Linked DNA regions of Homo sapiens: region 1 is linked to region 2. The links come from fine-mapping of genetic effects on gene expression. A gene starts in region 2. The other region holds a variant in brackets. All regions are shown on one strand. Distances are from middle to middle.

Evidence for each region.
Region 1: its variant is fine-mapped to the expression of DNPEP in prefrontal cortex (ROSMAP, PIP 0.95).

The regions. Positions count from the first base shown.
Region 1 is chr2:219,425,391-219,434,531 of GRCh38, forward strand. It overlaps DES (desmin), which reads left to right. Exons shown (of 9, transcript NM_001927.4): 8 at 273-355; 9 at 559-1,344. The coding sequence ends at 600. Among named protein-coding and RNA genes, the nearest start is that of SPEG, 4.9 kb to the right of the region's middle. RefSeq lists an enhancer at 3,760-6,849. The variant C/CA (reference allele first, on the strand shown) is at 4,583.
Region 2 is chr2:219,382,283-219,392,086 of GRCh38, forward strand. It overlaps DNPEP (aspartyl aminopeptidase), which reads right to left and starts at 5,630. Exons shown (of 15, transcript NM_012100.4): 1 at 5,477-5,630; 2 at 4,788-4,881; 3 at 4,610-4,698; 4 at 4,383-4,496; 5 at 4,004-4,129; 6 at 3,686-3,816; 7 at 3,349-3,424; 8 at 3,142-3,249; 9 at 2,084-2,161; 10 at 849-932. The coding sequence starts at 5,512. DNPEP-AS1 (DNPEP antisense RNA 1) reads left to right here and starts at 6,288. Exons shown (of 4, transcript NR_183823.1): 1 at 6,288-6,514; 2 at 6,605-6,766. RefSeq lists an enhancer at 4,311-5,157 and silencers at 5,422-5,661, 5,682-6,201, 6,282-6,431.

The sequences.
Region 1 (9,141 bases), 43 kb after region 2:
CCTACCCTCCTGCACCATCCTGCACATGGAGCAAATCTGTTGGCTCCTGAGACCATCTAAACTATGGGACAGGCGCTGGGGACTGCAGAACCACCTGCTGGGTGCTGGGCTGAAGGAAAGGTGTTAAAGTCTTGAAGAAGTAACAAGCCTGTCTTGAGGGGGGTTGGGGTCTGCTAGGGCTCTGCCCAATGTGGCCCCAGATGGACTCCCAGCCCCTGGTATAGCCCAGCCTGGACTTGGTCAGGCTGAGTGTGCGATGGACCCTGTTACAGAAACCAGCCCTGAGCAAAGGGGTTCTGAGGTCCATACCAAGAAGACGGTGATGATCAAGACCATCGAGACACGGGATGGGGAGGTAAGTGGTCTGTCTGGGCTCCTTACCCTTGGTGGGGGCTATGGATGTGTCTGGGGGGACTGTCTTCCACCCAGCTGTGCTGGTCTAGGTCCCTGGCTAGTGGGGCAAGAGAGATCCTGCGGCCCTGGGGTGGGGATGGCTCAGGGCTGAGGCTCCATTCTCTGGCTAGCACATGGTTGGACTGGGCTTCTCTTCCTCCCCAGGTCGTCAGTGAGGCCACACAGCAGCAGCATGAAGTGCTCTAAAGACAGAGACCCTCTGCCACCAGAGACCGTCCTCACCCCTGTCCTCACTGCTCCCTGAAGCCAGCCTTCTTCCATCCCAGGACACCACACCCAGCCTCAGTCCTCCCCTCACAGCCTCTGACCCCTCCTCACTGGCCATCCCTCGTGGTCCCCAACAGCGACATAGCCCATCCCTGCCTGGTCACAGGGCATGCCCCGGCCACCTCTGCGGACCCCAGCTGTGAGCCTTGGCTGTTGGCAGTGAGTGAGCCTGGCTCTTGTGCTGGATGGAGCCCAGGCGGGAGCGGTGGCCCTGTCCCTCCCACCTCTGTGACCTCAGGCACTAGCCTTTGGCTCTGGAGACAGCCCCAGAGCAGGGTGTTGGGATACTGCAGGGCCAGGACTGAGCCCCGCAGACCTCCCCAGCCCCTAGCCCAGGAGAGAGAAAGCCAGGCAGGTAGCCAGGGGGACTAGCCCCTGTGGAGACTGGGGGGCTTGAAATTGTCCCCGTGGTCTCTTACTTTCCTTTCCCCAGCCCAGGGTGGACTTAGAAAGCAGGGGCTACAAGAGGGAATCCCCGAAGGTGCTGGAGGTGGGAGCAGGAGATTGAGAAGGAGAGAAAGTGGGTGAGATGCTGGAGAAGAGAGGAGAGGAGAGAGGCAGAGAGCGGTCTCAGGCTGGTGGGAGGGGCGCCCACCTCCCCACGCCCTCCCCTCCCCTGCTGCAGGGGCTCTGGAGAGAAACAATAAAGAGATTCACACACAAGCCAAGCTGGCCCCTGTTGTCTTGACTGCCAGGTCTCCTGTGGGGCCCCTGGGGCCCTGTGATACAACCTGTCACCCTGAGATGGACTATACTGACCTTCTACCCAGCCAGACTTTCCCCAGGGCCTCGCGCCCACTTCTGTTCCCAGAGCCACCTGGCCTTGATGTCTGTATGCAGTGTATGGGGCAGGGAGGGCTGGACAGGGCTTTTGTTGGGGAACCACAAATACCTCTCGTTAGGCCCCAGTTCCAGGACTGCACCCCTTGTGCTCTCTACTACACCTTCAGGTCAGCCAGGCTGGGGGACACCACCTGCTATTCCTTTTGAAGGATGTAGCTGCTCCCCACTGACTGGCTCTGAAGTAGGGCTCCCCCAGTCCCTTCTTCAAAGATGCCAACAGCCCCTTTTTTTTCTCTCTCTCTTTTTTTCTTTTTGAGATGGAGTCTTGCTGTGTCACCCAGGCTGGAGTGCAGCAGTGTGATCACGGCTTACTGCAGCCTGGACTTCCTGAGCTCAAGCGATCCTCCCACCTCAGCCTCCCAAGTAGCTGGGACCACAGGTTCACACCACCATGCCTGGCTAGCTTTTTATTTTTTGTAGAGACAAGGTCTTTCTGTGTTGCTGAGGCTGGTCTTGAATTTCTGGGCTCAATTGCTCCTCCTGCTACCTCAGCCTCCCAAAGTGTTGGGATTACAGATGTGAGCCAATGGCCTCTTTCTATTAACTCCTTCCAATACTATTTTTATACACAGGAGCCAATTCAGGAAAAATAATGTTTGGAAAAATGGAAAGATCTGTTCTGTGCTTCGATAAGAAGGTTCAATACTCTGAAGAGAAGTCAATTCATTTTCCATTCATCTATAATTTCAATGCCATGCAATCTCAATTAAAATACCAAATAAAAATTTTAAGAGAATTGGAGAAGATGGGAGGGGAGTGTAAGACGTATGAAAAAAATTAGGAGGCTGGGCACAGTGACTCCACCTGTAATCCCAGCACTTTTGGAGGCTGAGGTGGGAGGATCTCTTGAGCCCAGGAGTTTGAGACCAGCTTGGGCAATGTAACGAGACCCTGACTCTACAAAAAATAAAAAATTAGCCTGGCATGGTGGTATGAGCCTGTAGTTCCAGCTACTTGGGAGGCTGTGGTGGGAGGATAGCTTGAGCCCAGGAGGTCGAGGCTTCAGTGAGCTGAGATTGTACCACTAACTCCAGCCTGGGTGACAGAGTGAGACTCTGTCTCAAAAAAAGAAAAAGGAAAAAAATTAGGAAATCATAGAAAGAACATCAAAATATATTAGAAGGCTATGATAATTAACAGATTTGTTAATGAAGAGGAAATATACAAATATTAATGAACAAAATAGTGTGTTTAGAACAAGACTCACATACAGGAGACATACACATGTTAAAGGAGGCATTTTGAATTTGTGGGGAAAACTTAATGATTCAGTATAGGGTTTGGAGCACTTTGATAGCTAAGAGGTGGGGTAGGGGGCAGAGTGAAGGCTGTCTCTCTTTTACTCCTTCTAAAAATATTCCAGTGGATCAAAGATGTAGGAAACGATGGATCCATGTAGGCCTCAGCCTTCAAGTTTCTCCTCTGAGATTTCAGGGATTATCCTTTAAAGGAGTCAGGAAGAGGGTAGAGATCACAAAGATAATAAGCTCAGACAGTTTGTATGTTAAATAAACCTCAGGAGGTTTTAGTCTTAAGGTCCTTAATCTGACCTTCCAAACTGACTTTTCCAGAAACTTCCAAAAGCCTCTCTGGTGTCTCTTTCTTCCCCTCCTTTAATGTGGCCCTGGCTCACAAGTCACCCCTCTCTCTAAGAAGTCCCCTTCTCTGTTTTATTCTTCAGCTTTGCCCCAGGAGGACCTGGGGTGTAGCCCCATGTCCCCTCCCTCTGCCACTGGTGACTCATGGTCATTTCATTCCCCTCAGTCCTCAAATAGGGTGAACCCTACAGGCCCCAGAACTACCCCAGTCAACCTGTAGAGAAACTCCACAATGACCCTCACAGGAAATGAAATTGAAAGTCCCATTTCCAATGTCTTTGTACTGGGATGGAGGAGGAGGGATGGGTAAGGGGCTTCTTATCCTTGAGTCTGTTGGGGGCCCTGGAGTCTGAGCCAGCTTCTCTGTGTTGGAAACACCTGGACAGGGCTGGGCTCAGGTGGATTAGAGGGGGTGTGTATATCTGTGAGTAGTTTCTGGAATCCTTCTTTCCCCTGAATGAGTTATGTGCACTTATCTGTCCCACAAAGGATAAAGGGACACATGGGTTAGGGGAGGTTTTGGAGGCAGTTCCCCTCCCACCCCCCAGCCCACCAAATGCTTAGGTATAGACTAGTCACTAAGGTGGAAGGAATGTAGGAATCTCAGGCTCTCAGAGTCAGACCTCAGAAGGCTCCCAGGCAATGATCCTTGAGGTGCAGAAACCCCCTTCTCAGCCCTGCCCCACATCCTTCATGAGCATTCCTCAAACTCTGCCTGAATGTCTCCAGAGCCCGAGAACTCACCGCTTCTTTGGTGGCCCCTTCCAGCTGGGGACAGTTCTGAAATAAAGCTCTTCCTTCTCAGCACACCTGTCTCCTGTGACTGCTACCCACTTGTCCCCAGAGAAGAAAGAAGGCCCAGAGCCACCCTCTATCCCCCAGGTGGGGAAGGATTCTTTGAGCACAGCCTGCCTGGAACTAGAAATTCTGGTTCTAATCTTTGCCTCTCTTCATAAGAGCTGAGCTGTGACCAAGGGAACCCAGAGAATGGGCAAATACAAACCAAAACAGATTTGGGTTTCCACCGGCTGCAGTGGCTCACATCTATAATCCCAGCACTTTGGGAGGCCAAGGTGGGAGGATCACTTGAGCCCAGGAGTTTGAGACCAGCCTGGGAAACTGCAAGACCCGATCTCTACAAAACAAAACAAAAACCCAACAACAGGGGCGGGGCACGGTGGCTCACACCTGTAATCCCAGCACTTTGGGAGGCTGAGGCGTGTGGATCACAAGGTCAGGAGTTCAAGACCAGCCTGGCTAACACAGTGAAACCCCTCTCTACTGAAAATACAAAAAAAAAAAAAAAAAAAAATTAGCCGGGCGTGGTGGTGGGTGCCTGTAGTCCCAGCTACTCAGGAGGCTGAGGCAGGAGAATGGCATGAACCCGGGAGGCGGAGCTTGCAGTGAGCCGAGATCGCGCCACTGCACTCCAGCCTGGGCAACAGAGGGAGACTCTGTCT[C/CA]AAAAAAAAAAAAAAAAAAAACACCTCCACGGCAAAGCCTCTTCCTGCTCCTTGGGCTCTGGGGTCTTAACCTTCAAGACTCTGAACATCAAGAAGTAACAGGGCTCATAGAATGCTGATCGGCTTCCCACCGGACCCAAAGGATCAGGCCCAGACCAGCTCTGACCCCAGCAGACAGGGTGTAATGGAAGGGATCATGGAGGCAGGCACCATATGCCAGGACTGATGGATCAGCAGACATTTTCCTGCCTGTCTGTCCACTCCAGGTATATTTTCACCCCCGTCCCTTGAGGCCCCTGTCCTATTCTACTCATTCACCCCCTCCCTCCTTCCTCTCACCACAAGCTCACCCAAGGCACATCTGCAAATGCTTCAATAACCTTCGATTTAACACCTAAAACGTCAGCTACCTAAGGGTAGAATTTTAATCCATTTTATTCACTATTGTATCCCAAGTGCCCAGAAGAATGCCTGGAAGAATAGTAGGTACTCATTAAATATTTAAATACTTAATGAATGAATACCTACTGCGCACTTTTACTTACTTTTCTCTAAATTAAATATTCACCAGGAAGGGCTGATGGCCCCCACTTTATTCACTGATTCAATGAACACTTACTGAGATTTTTCCCATGTGCCAGGCATGTGGTACATCATTATGGCTTAAGAAGTGCCCAGTGGCACCTCCAGAGAGGTAGGGTGACCTGCAAAGGTCACACAGCAGTCTGTAGCAAAGGAGGACTGGGCTCCAGGCTCCCTGGCCTCTGGAGCTCAGATCTCTTTCCATGACACCAGAGGCTTGTGATCGCAAGACAGGGCAGACTGGCAGCACACACACCCAGCTAGGCGCCAGGCTGCAGGGCACTGTGGGGCCCATGCTGAGGGACAGACGAGTGACTTGCAGCCAGCTGTCCCAAGTGCCTGGCCTGGCCTGGCCAGAGCCTGACGGCTTCCAGCTGTCACAGCTAGTGTGGGCTCCTCCCAGAAGAGGGCACCAGTGACTTGCATGGACTTGTGCCCTCCCTACCCAGGCCCACAGACTCCTGCACGCAAATCAACGAATGCCCCAATTATGGATCTAGGAAGGCAGAAGGCAAGTCATGTTCCAGGCTCTGTGCCAGGCCCTTTTAAATAGTTAATCTTCATTTGAATATTTAATATAATAATTTAATGTCATTACTACAACGTAAGTCAGATCATGTAATTCTTCTGCTCAAAGCCCTAAGATGACTTCTCATTTCACCAGGAACAAAAGCGCCATGGCCTGCAAAATTCTAGGCCATCTGGCTTCTGCTGCCTGTCTGACCCATTTCCTTCCACTCTCCCCTTGCTCCCTCCATCCTCTCTGGCCTTCGTCTTGGAGCCCACCAGGCATATTCCCACCTCTGCCAGAAGCAGCCCTCCCCAGACATTTGCATCATTTGCTTTCTTACTCAAGATTGGCTCAAATGTTCCCAGTGGGGCCAACTCCAGCCACACCCTATTTGAAAGTGCAATCTCCCACCACACTCACATTTGCCTTAAGCTTTGTCCACAGTGCTTACCTCCTTGTAACAATCTTTACAGGTTCTTTCTTTTCCTTCCTTCCTTCCTTCCTTCCTTCCTTCCTTCCTTCCTTCCTTCCTTCCTTCCTTCCTTTCTCTTTCTTATCTTTCTTTCTTATTGAGATGGAGTCTCACTCTGTTGCCCAGGTTGGAGTGCAGTGGTGCCATCTCGGCTCACTGCAACCTCTGCCACCCGGGTTCAAGCAATTCTCCTGCTTTAGCCTCCCAAGTAGCTGAGATTACAGGTGTGTGCCACCAGGCCTGGCTAATTTTTGTATTTTTAGTAGAGATGAGGTTTCACCATGTTGGCCAGGCTGGTCTTGAACTTCTGACCTCAGGTGATCCTCCTGCCTCAGCCTCCCAAAGTGCTGGGATTACAGGCGTGAGCCACCGTGCGCAGCCTATTTCTTTGTATTTGTTGTTCATCTCTCTTCTCAAGTAAAAGCAGCATGGGAGCAGAAATCTTTGTCTGTTCACTGCTATATCCCTAGTCCCTAGCACAGTGCCAGTACATAGTAGAAACTCAAAAATATTTGTGGATGAATAAATAAAAAAATTATGGATGAATAAATAATTAAAACCCTGAGTTGTGCTACCTCCATTCTATAGATGAGGAAACCGAGGCTTAGAGATGCTAGGTAACTTGCTTGAGATCGCATCGTTCATTTATTCAACCAACTTACTAACCAGCCAACATTTACAGTCTACCCACTGCATTCCACACACATTTAGAGGCACAGTGTTGGGTGGCTTTGGGTTATTTGTTTTTCGAAATACTCTCTATTCCTTTTTTCTTGATGTACCATCTGTTTGCAATGACTTCCCCCATATTGTCACCTTCTAGAATTCAATTTACACTTTAGAATTCGATTCATCATCAGTGGTTGCCAGAGGTTGGTGGAGGGGGTCTATGGTAGAGTCTATGACTCCGAAGGGGGTACATGAGCTAGTATTTGGGGTGATGGAATTGTTTGCTCTGTATGGTCCTGGAGTGGCAGATACATGATTCTATGCATTTGTCAAAACCCAGAGAACTGCACCTCATAAAAAAATAAACTTTAGGCCAGGCACGGTGGCTCACACCTGTAATCCCAGTGCTTTAGGAGGCTGAGGCAGGCAGATCACCTGAGGTCGGGAGTTCGAGACCAGCCCGACCAAAATGGAGAAACCCCGTCTCTACTAAAAATACAAAATTAGCTGGGTGTGGTGGTGCATGCCTGTAATCCCAGCTACTCGGGAGGCTGAGGCAGGAGAATTGCTCGAACCCGGGAGGAGGAGGTTGTGGTGAGCCGAGATCACACCATTGCACTCCGGCCTGGGCAACAAGAGTGAAACTCCGTCTCAAAAAAAAAAAAAACTTTAATGTATGCAAACTGTAAAAAAAATTATTCCTCAAGGTTCTTAACCTCTATGGATGTAATTCAGTGTTTAAATGGTTCCTCCTATACCTTTTACACACTGTCTCTCGCGCTCTCTCTCTTTCTCTTTGACTTCAGTATCCCAGAATGAGGATGGGGAAGAGGAGGCAAGGGTAAGAGTAACATTCTCTGCCTCTGAATACTCATGGCTCCTCTCAGCCCTTCCTGGGTTTCATCCCTCAGGGCTCAAGGTCAGGCCTGGGTCTCCTACTTGGACTTCTTAAAAAATTTTTTACTTTATGATAACTGTAGATTCACAGGCAATTATAAGAAATAATGCAGAGAGATCCTGAATTACCTTCACTTGGTTTCCTCCTAGGGTAACATCTTGTATGACTATAGTACAGCATCACAACCAGGAAAGGGGCATTGGTATAATCCACCTACCTTCTGCAAGTTTTACCAGTGTTACATGTACTGTTAGTGTTGCGTACAAGTGCAAATGCACATTTAGTTCTATGCAACTTTATCACTTGTGTAGATCCACATAACCACCACCATTACCACTGTCAAGATACAGAACTGTTCTGTTTTTGTTTTGTTTTGTTTTTTGAGACAGAGTCTCACTCTGTTGCCCAGGCTGCAGTGCAGTGGTGCCATCTAGGCTCACTGCAACCTCCACCTCCCAGGTTCAAGCGATTCTCCTGCCTCAGCCTCCTGAGTAGCTGGGACTACAGGCATGAGCCACTACACCTGGCTAATTTTTTGTATTTTTAGTAGAGACAGGTTTCACCATGTTGGCCAGGCTGGTGTTGAATTCCTGAGTTCAAGTGATCCACCCACCTCGGCCTCCCAAAGTGCTGGAATTACAGGTGTTAGCCACCGCGCCCAGCCAAGATACAGAACTGTTCTATCACAAAGGTCTCATCTGGACTCTTGATGTTTCTCAACGTGCAACACTTAGGCACATCAGAATCAGTTGAGTCATTTGTTAAATGTGCAGATTCCTCCCAGCTCAGCTGCTGAACCAGTGTGGGGCAAGGAGGCTGGGAATCTGGCCTTTACTTGAACTGGCCGTCATTTCTATCCATCCTCCACTTTGTGGCCGCCAAGAGGATCCTCCTAAGACACAGCTCCCACCGTGTTTTTTCTGCCGCTTAAAGCTGTGTAGTGGCGCCCCCTGCTTTCAGGGTAGAGAAACCAAAGCCTTAGCAAACAAAGCCTTCTCCAGGCCCCACCTCCCTTCTTCCACTCACCCCACCCACTACGCTTCAATCCCTCCAAACCTCTCTAATTCCCAGGACGCCTTTGTTTTCATCAGGCTCATTTTGTTCATGCCGTTCCCTCTGCCTGGAATGTCCTGCCCACTCTTTTCTGCCTATTGCAACCCTATTCCACCACCCATTCTTACAGATGAGGACTTGGAGGTTGAGAGAGGTTTGGTGTCACCCAGCAAGTAAGGGCAGGGCGCAGTGGAGGCCCCAATCCACCTGACTCCCAGGCTCCTGGTCTTACTGTTCGCCAGCTGTAATGGAGGCGCTGGGGGAGGCCATGGTCCCTCTTCGGAGCTGTCTGCTCACCTCCACTTGGGCCTGCCTCCCCATCCACCTCTCAGGCATCTCACCAGGACCGTTCCTCTTCTTCCCCTCCCAGCGAA
Region 2 (9,804 bases):
TCACTGAACACCAGACAGTGGGCTGAGACCAAACTAACTCACATTCTTAACAGTACTGGTGGGTTTCCTGCACTGCTCCCCTTCCTCCTCTCGTGACCCTCACATCTGGGGCTCAGCACAGGTGCCCCACCACACTGGTCAATTTTCTTTTATGTGTATGACAGAGACTGCTAACTGTCCATGATATCTTTTAGAACACCCAAGTTGTAGCTAAGCACTTAACTACCCAGCTAGAGATGACATTTCCAGGCTCCCCTGCAGCTAAGTTCTGTGGAATGTAAGCAGTGATGAATGTCACTTCTGGATCATGCCCTTAAAGCCAGGGGGTGTCTACTGCCCCTTTGCCCTCTCTTCCCTTCCTACTAACTCAGTGTAGACATGATGGCCAGAGCTGGAACGGCCACCCTGAATCCTGAAATGGAAGTCATGTGTTCAGGACGGCAGGGACCCCTCCTAAACTGCTAACTCTGACCTGGGTTGTTACATGAGAGAGCACTAGCTGTTCAAGCTCTGTTATGCAGCTGAGACTGCAGCCTCACACACGCAGGCATCATGAGGACCTACTCTGTGCTGAGCCCTGGGGCTACGAGGATGGGCTGGGTAGAGTCCCTGTCCTAAAGGAAGAAGCTCACCATGTGGCACAAAGAGAGATACAGGAGAGACGGTCACCCTCGAATAAGCAGATCTATGTTGAGTCAGAGGAGACACCAAGTGCTAAGGAGGCACAGGCAGCATCTCCCCTGTCTTGGGGCCCCCAGAAGAGCCCTGGCTCACGGTGGATGCCTGGCACAACAAGTTGGCTGTGGAAGACTCCGCAGAGGTGACCCTCCCCAGAACCCTCCACGTACCTCTTCGTTGTCATAGAGTGTGACCATGCGCACGTGAGGCTCTGTGGCCAGGGAGCCAGGGCCTGCACAGGAATCTATCAAGGCCTGGTTCAGGGAAGGAAATGAGAGCATCATCTCCAACCTGCTTCTGCTGGAACTCAGCCCACCAGCACCTTGGGTGTGCACGCTCCCCCATCCACCAGCACCTTGGGTGTGCACATTCCCCTGTCTGCCTTCCATGGCCATGACTTTTATCAATTAGGGCACTGCCTGGCAGAGGGTGTGGTGGGGACCTTTTTTTTCTTGCCAAATAAATAGCTACATAGGTAGAAACCTTTAAGGTGTGGTGAGGACCTTTTTTTTCTCTTTTTTTCTTTCTTTCTTTTTTTTTTTGGCCAGATCAATAGCTAGGTAGAAACCTTTTCAACTGGGACAGGAGACACCATCCTTTGGGTGTTGTTCTCTACCTTCCCATGCAAAAGGCAGTAGAAGATGTGGAGGACAGAGAGGAAGAGCTGAGAGTCCTGGAAAGCCAAAAGGCTACACACATCACATAAACTGATTGGCCTCAGGGAAAAGACTGAGGTTCAAAGAGGTGACAGACTCCATCAAGGTGACATGACTGGCTGGTTGCCTGCAGAAGTAGATGCAGGTCCCAGGTCCAGCTCTGGTCTCAATTACAGCCCAAAGCCTATCTCCAGCCACAGGATTACAGGGAAGGAAAGGCAGAAAAAGGCAGAGGGAGATCAAGGGCAAGAGGAGAGAAAGAAAGGGAACTGACTAGGGTGGAGAGAAGGTGGGGAATATCAAGGTGACTAGGAAGAGAGGCTACCTGACTGAGATCCCAAGAAACAGGGAGAAGGCTGGGGTCTTAAGCCTGGGGAGTGGCGTAGGAAGCAGAAGGAGGTGGATGATACTGCCTTGTGGATGATAAAGCCTTTCCCTGAGGCAGAGGTTGTTAACTTCAGGAAAAGCAGCAGGAGCAAGGCTAGGACAAGAGACCATGGTGCCTGAAACAACTTCTCCTCCTTCTTCTTGCCTCAACACCCTGATAGTGCAAGGGCAGAGACCAAAGGTGGCGATGCTGAGGCTGCAACATTTAGGGCCCCCTCCTGGTCCATCCAGCACCAGCAGACTGAGCGGGTAGACAATGGCCCTCTCTCACAACCTGCTGGGGCTTTAGGCAGCTCCCCCGACCCCAAACATACCACCTCTGCTGGTGGTTATGTGCTGCCTGGGGCGCCCCGGCTCCTCACCTGCAGGGCACAGAAGCAGCTGTGCAGATTGTCCAGCCGAGGAGCAAAGATGAACTCATCATAGGCACCACCCAAGACCTAGAGAGGTAAGACAGTCAGCCCGACCTTCAACCCTCCACCCCCACTCACCTTTCTTTTGCTCCCAAGGGTCTCCTTGGTTTCTTGCGCAACCTCTCCCTGACCCCTGGCTTAGGGCACTATTTTGTTTTTTCTTTTTTTTGAGATGAAGGTTCGCTCTTGTCGCCCAGTCTGAAGTGCAATGGCTCGATCTCGGCTCACTGCAACTTCCGCCTCCCGGGTTCAAAGGATTCTCGTGCCTCAGCCTCCTGAGTAGCTGGGATTACAGGCATGCACCACCAGGCCCAGCTAATTTTTGTATTTTTATTAGAGACAGGGTTTCACCATGGTGGTCAGGCTAGTCTCGAACTCCTGACCTCATGTGATTCCCCCCGCCTCAGCCTCCCAAAGTGCTGGGATTCCTTGCTAGGCAGGACCAAGCAGAGATTGGAGAAGGGGGCTGGGTTGGTGCTGAGGAACAAAAGGGTGGAGGCCAATAGCTCTTGACCTCTTCCTGTGGGTCAAGAAAAGGAAGGGCTGAATTGTCATCAAAAAGGCCAAAGAAGTAAACAGAGGAAACCAGCCAAAAAACAGAAACTTAGTACGTGTTCAAGCAGGACACAGCATCCAAAGATTTAGCAATCTCTGACCATCAGCAACCGGGAGACAGAGAACAGATGGCCACATCCAGGCCTCTTTCCCTAAGCAGTTCAGTGTCAGTGTGGGTCAAAGCAGACAGGGCCCACCTGTAGAAGAAACTCTTTGGGAATCTGTAAAAAGGGCCAATTCCCAGATAGTCCTAGTGGGCAGGTCTGGGGTAGGGAACTTGTCTTTTTGAGAACCACCGCCCTAGAAGCAGTGGGGGATGTGTCTACTGGGAAAAACGGGGATGAGAGTTACTGAGGGCTTGGTGGAGGTGATGGGTGCTTCAGCAGGACGGGCTAGGGGTGGCCAGGATCCTGGAGGCCCTTCACCCACAGGTTCCTACAGCCAGTCCTCACCGCAGGCTGGGTGTCTGCAAGGCAGAGCTCCATCTCCACTATGTCCTTGGGGCTCAGCCCCAGATGGGCACAGAGCAGGGACATGAGGACCGAATGGTGCCGCTCATCCTGAAGAGCAGAAAGATGCTGGGAAGAGTCCATTCCTCCTCTCCTCCCCACTTCTCAGGGGACTCTGCCGCCCTCCCCATGATCAGGAGACTCTCTTACCACAGCATTGAGAGGCCCTGGCTCAGGAGTCCCCTTCTCCAGCTCCTCCTGGATGGCTGTGGCAAGAATGGGGACTCTGTGGGGAGACGTGGGTTGTGGGGGGATTGCGAGGAGGGCACAGCTGAGTGCGGCATCCATAAGTTCAGGTGCCTCCTGATGGGCAACTGCCTCTGCCCTTCAATTCCCAGCCCACTCCCCAAATCACAAGGCTGTGAGGACCCTTAGAAATTAACTGGGTCCCAAGAGTAAAATGTGACCTAATGGCTACCATTAGGTAATAATCACCTGGTACCATTCTCCATCCCTCCCAGCCACCGCAGCCCTGCCCCAGTCTCACAGATGCATCTCTGTGTTGGGCCCAAAGTTCTCGTTGATATTTCGCTGCAGATGGATGGCCAGGTGTGGGATGCGAAGAATGGGCCGCTCCACGTGCACCAGCTGCTGCTCCAGCCGACCTGAGGTAGGGCACTGCAGCCAGCCAGGCCAGGTCAGCCCAGGGTGCCTCCTACCCCAGTGGTCAGTCTTTACTTCACTCAGACTAAGCAGGGTGGTCCTCTGACCAGACTGCCCCCACCCCTCTTCCCCACGGGTACCCTGAGGAGTGTGGCAGTCAGTCTTCTGAGGAGGCTCCGCCATCCCCAACCTCGGTTCCCACCTTGACAATGACGCGTCCAGCCAGAGTCAGGTCACGGTCAAACCAGGTGCTCCAGATCCCACCACCATAGGTCTCCACACCGACTTGCTGGAAGCCCACCTGGCTGCGGCGAGACCGACGTTTCACCTGAGTGTAAAGATGGAGAAGTCAGAGAAGGCTTCATGACGATATGTGGAGATGAGACTTTGGCTACTCATAAGTAACAGACAGCGAATATTAGTGTCACATGAAAGGCTCAAGGTGTGAAGGAAGGGGCCAACAAGTTTACCTTCTCCCTTACTCCAGGGGATAGAGGCCCCAGTTTGTACCTCCTAGTTCTCTTTTGCCCTGTACTCCCTCTGACATCTCCTCCCACCCCAACACCGTCCGAGTTCCTTACCCGGAGGCAGGGGCTGTCCGTGTGGGCCCCGATGAGGCTGAAGCCATTGCCAGGAACGTACTGGCCCCCTACAGCAAAAGCTATGATGGTGGAGGAGTTCCTGGTCATGAAGTACTGAGGAGAAGGGGAGGAAAGACAGGGGTGTGAGTTGCATTACTCAGCTGGCACACAGGGCTTGGAGACCAGCCTAGGGACCTGCCTTTCCACCCCCACCCCACCCCCAGTACCTTGCTCTCGGGCTTAATATTCCATTTCTCAGTCTCCTTGAGTTCACTGAAGCCAGCCTGGAGAAGGCGGTTGCGGCATTCAGCCACAGCTGTGGGAAAAGCACCCTCTCACAGCGATGGAAGCTGGTGAAGGGCGCATCAGCCTCCACCCTCCTCCCTTGCCCTGGCCACCGCTTACCATGGAAAGGAGAGGGACTCCGGTTCACGAACTTGAGGAGTTCCTTAGCCGCAGTCTGCACCGCCTCTTTGCGGGCCTTACCGTTCATGGCCACCTAGGGGAGGGGGATGCTCAGACTTTTACAAGGTCTGGGACCCCTGACCTTTCACCCAGGTTCCGAGGATTCTCCCATCCCCACCCCCAGAAGTGACCACTCTAAGGCACAGACCTCTGCTTCCGCCCGTCCCCACCGAGAGACCCAAACCCAGGGCTGAAACTCCGTTGAAAGCTTCAGCCCGCCGGCCCAGGATCATGAGCCAGGCCCGCCCCTTAATCCGAACTTTAGCCCGACTCCCTAAGTCCCGCCCCCATGTCCCTGCCCAGCTAGGAAATCCTGTTCTGCTCCCAAACTCCGGGATCCCAAGCGGGCCCCATACTCTGAGGCGGCCTGCATCACGTGCGCGTACCCAGCCCGGAGCCAAAGCCCTGTACCCCAAGGAGCACCCTGACTCCTCTCTCGCACCCACCTAGTCTCTCGCAGGACTCCCCCTTCCAGTCCCGGGAAAGTCGTCAGGTCACCCTCCGCGGGGCTTTCGGTTTCGCTTTGGGTCAGGCGGCCCCACTGCAGCACCGCGCTAAGCTTGGGCCCCGGAGGGCGCCGGACCCGGTCTGGGATCGAAATTCAAGTGGGGCCGTCGGGAGCCACTTACCTGCATGGCCCCGCGCGTGGGGCTGTGTCCGCTCATCTGGCCTCCGGGCTCGGCCCGCCCCCACCGCGCCGCCTGCCCCGCCCCTCACTAGCTTTGCAGGTCCCCCGCGTGCCCCTTCAGGCCGCGCCGCACTCGTAGGCCTTCATCACGCTTCCCCGGCCGCGCCGCCCCGCCCCATGTTTGGCCTCCCCGCCCACCTCTCCCCGCCCCTCGGCATCCGCCCCGCCCACCTCGGTCAGCCCCGCCCCTCGGCGGGCTTACCCTGTCCGCTCCGCCCCTCGCTGGGCACCACCACCCGCCTTGCCCCGCCCTTGCCCCGCCCCTAGCTTGGCCGCACCGCCCGCCCCGCCCCGCCCCTCGCCAGGAAGCACCGCCCGCCCTGCCCCTCGCAGGGCTGCACCGCCCGCCCCGCCCCTCGTCAAGCTTCCTCGTCCGCCCCGCCTCTCGCCAGGCTGCACCGCCCTCCCCGCTTTGTCCCGCCCCTCACCAGGTTTCCCCCATCCGCTCCGGCCCTCGCTGTACCCCACTACTCGCCCTGCCCCCGCCCTTGCTCCGCCCCGCCCTTCGTCAGGCCTCCTTGCGCTCCCCGCCCCTTGTCAGGCCGTGCCGCCCACCCCGCCCCGCTCCTCGCCAGGCTGCTCCACCCGCCCCGCCGCTCGTCACGCTTCCTCGTCCGCCCCGCCCCTCGCTAGGCTGCACCGCCCGCCCCGCTTCCGCCCCATCCCTCTCCAGGCCGCGCCTCCGCCTCCGGCCCGCCCTCGTCTCCGCCCCTGCGGGGGCTGCTCGTTAGGCCCCGCCCTGCACCCCCGTCACCCACGCCGCGCGACCCGCAGCCGCCGCCAGGGCCCTCTGCTGCCGCGGAGGTGCTAGGACAGCCGCGGACGGCCCGCCTCCCCGTGCCCCGGGCCTCGAGGCCAATAAAAAGCTCGCCCCTCCAGCTCACCGGGTCCGACGGGTACGGTACAAAGTGCTGTCTCTCGCCACAGCCACCTTTGTGACAATAAAAGCAATAAGGCTAATGTCCATGGGGCGCTCACGGTGAGCTTTAGCTTTATGATAAAGATTGGCCTGTTACCTCGTTTAATCTTCACAACTGCCCCATCAACTATGTACTCTTACTGTCCCCAGTTTATGCATGAACAGAGAAAGCTGAGATACGGAGACTAGTGATCCGTCGAGGTAATAAACGGCACAGGTGGGGTTTGAACTCCATCAGTTTGATTGCAGAGGCCTGGAACAACCCTACAGCCTTCTCTCAGATCTTTTCTGGACCTTTTTCTATGCGCTTTGGTAAGTGTTATGTTACACGGGAGGTCCACAAGGGACACAGAAGTTGACTTGCCCAAGATCACATAGCTGTTTGGGTGGATCTGGGATTTGACTCTGATATCTGTGCCCTTTCCATTTGTTAAAAACAACAGAAAAACAAATTCCACATTATTGGCAGTTCCAGTATTCCCATGTCAGGAGTAGTGAGTAGCACGTTTAAACCCCATGCACCTTCCTAGCTGCAGGAACTGATCAGGACTCTTGGTGGCCTCTAGATCCAAAACAGGGCCCAGCTACCAGGGGTTCAAACAAAATTCCAGAGATCACAGGTTTATGGAGCAACCTGCCGTTTATATACCTGGGGTGGGGAGTGACAGGGTGGGATGGGGAGAGGCTGGAAAGGTCCTGCAGCCCTCACTTCAAACTAGTAGATATGGCAGGGGAGTTTTCAAGAATTCACCCACTAGGTGCTGGCTTAAATTCATGGCATTCCCTAACCGTTTGTTGAAATACCATTATGGGCCTGGCGCAGTGGCTCACGCCTGTAATCCCAGCACTTTGGGAGGCCGAGGCGGGTAGATCACTTGAGGTCAGGAGTTCGTGACCAGTCTGACCAACATGGTGAAACCCCGTCTCTACAAAAAATACAAAAATTAGCCGGGTGTAGTGGCACGTGCCTGTAATCCCAGCAGCTACTTGGGAGGCTGAGGCAAGAGAATCGCTTGAACCCGGGAGGTGGAGGTTGCAGTGAGCTGAGATCGTGCCACTGCACTCCAGCCTGGGCGACAGAGTGAGATTCTGTCTCAATAAATAAATAAATAAAATTATGTATAAAGCTCAATGCTGAGCAGGACATGGAGAGAGCATTCTTGTCCTCTACCTCCTGGGGAGGGGACACATTCAAGGAGGACAGTGAAAGGGCCGAAACAAGGCTACAATGTATAAGGGAAGGAGACAACCTGAATAAGGAACCACCTTTAATGTTCTTTCTGATCACAGAAAAGAGTACATGCTTGAGTAAGAGATTCAAACATCACCAAAATGCATAACTTAGAAAGTGAGCCGGGAGTGGTGGCTCACGCCTGTCATCCCAGCATTTTGGGAGGGAAATACAGAAGTGTTCCTATTCAAATCAGAAGTGAGACATTGATGAGCTATTACTGCTGCTAGACAATGTGGAGCTGTAGTCAGAGCCAGTACCACAAAACAAAATTAACAATTCTATATGTGCAAAAGTAAAATTGGTCATTATTTATAGATTATATGATTATCTAGAATCCCCAAGAAAATAAACGATCAAGCTATTATTAGAACTGGTAGGAAGGGTAGCCTAATTTAAAAAACACTGACTTTCTTGTACAATAATCACCTAGAAAATATAAAAGTAAAAAGGTTCTTATTGACCATTTTTGGTTTGGGTAAAAAAGAAAAAAGTAAAAGGGCTATATTTACAAGAGCAAGAAATATTGTTAAATTTCTAGTCATGAACATATGAGACACCTAATCTCACTTTAAACAGGAAAATGCAAGTTAAAAATGAGATAACAGTTGGGCGTGGTGGCTCATGCCTGTAATCCCAGCACTTTGGGAGGCAAAGGCGGGTGGATCACGAGGTCAGGAGTTTGAGACTAGCCTGGCTAAAAATACAAAAAATTAGCTGGACATGGTGGTGTGCACTTGTAATCCCAGCTACTCAGGAGACTGAGGCAGGAGAACTGCTTGAACCCGGGAGGCAGAGGTTGCAGTGAGCCGAGATCGTGCCATTGCACTCCAGCCCAGGCAACAAGTGCGAGACTCCAACTCAAAAAAAAAATTAATAAATAATAAAAATGAGATACTTTTTCTTTTTATTGAGCAGATTAACAAAAATGGAAAAGATGGGTAATATCAAGTGTTGGAGAAGGCTTGGGGTAATGCAAGCATTTTCTGGAGGCTAAAGCAACTCCATCTGGGAAGCTAATCTGCCATGTTGACTTTTCAACAACCTGTTCCAGGAATGACTCTAAGTTTTCTACTTTACCTACTATTACCATAAATCCTGCGCTTAGACAGATTCACATAGCATTCATGACTTTGCCTGAGGGGTCAACTTCAATTGTTTGACACATTGTTTCCCTATGGTATGTAAGCCCTGGGTTTGCAGGGTAATCCACCATTTCATCTCTGAAACTATGGCCTCTATTCATAAGTCCCTATGAAATGTTTCTTTCTGAGAGACTGTATATGTCAGCCTCTTTCGTCGGCTTTTCAGCTTCCCTGAACTTTGGGGGTATGTTTGCACAGACCTTTATACCCAAATTTCTGTGGTGTAAATGTTCCCCGTGGCCGATTTCAAGCTGTCGAGATGATGTCACTGAAGGGAGTTGGGAAGAGCTGTGCGGAAGCATGCCATTATGTAGATTTCCACCATGCAGACACAATGGATAGAAATAACATCAACAGCATAGATTTAAGAAGGCAGTAAAATGTTTGGAAAGGTGATGGATTTTTGGTTTTCATTATCTGTAATATAATTTATTTAATTGTAAGTGTATATAATTTAGTTTTTTTTAATGATTGCTGTGTTTAACAACAAGCTCACCAAATTCCTGGAAATTTGACAATCAGTTCTCATGAGCTTGTCCAAGTTGGCCCCAGCACACTATTCCACCCGTACTGTACATCTTTGCTACTAAATGTGTGATCTGTTGACCAGCAATGTCAATAACATCTGGGAGCTTTTTAGAAATGCAGAACCTCAGGGCTTACCCTAGAGTTATAGAATCAGCATCTGCATGTTAACAAGATTCCTAGATGATTTGAATGCTTGAGACACAGTATTTTAAAGTGCTGTGTAGCAGTTCATAAAAAAAAAAAAAAGGTCAGTCTTTAGGAATTGTTACAGAAAAGAATTCCAAATATACTGTTGAGTGAAAAAAAAAAGCAATTTCTAGAATGTAAGGTGAGGGCCTTTAGATAAAACTCACACAATGAGCTAAATTTATATTTCTAGATGTTATATAAATACATATGTAAATGGATAGAAACAGGTTTGGAAGGATAATGGTCACCTCTGGGTA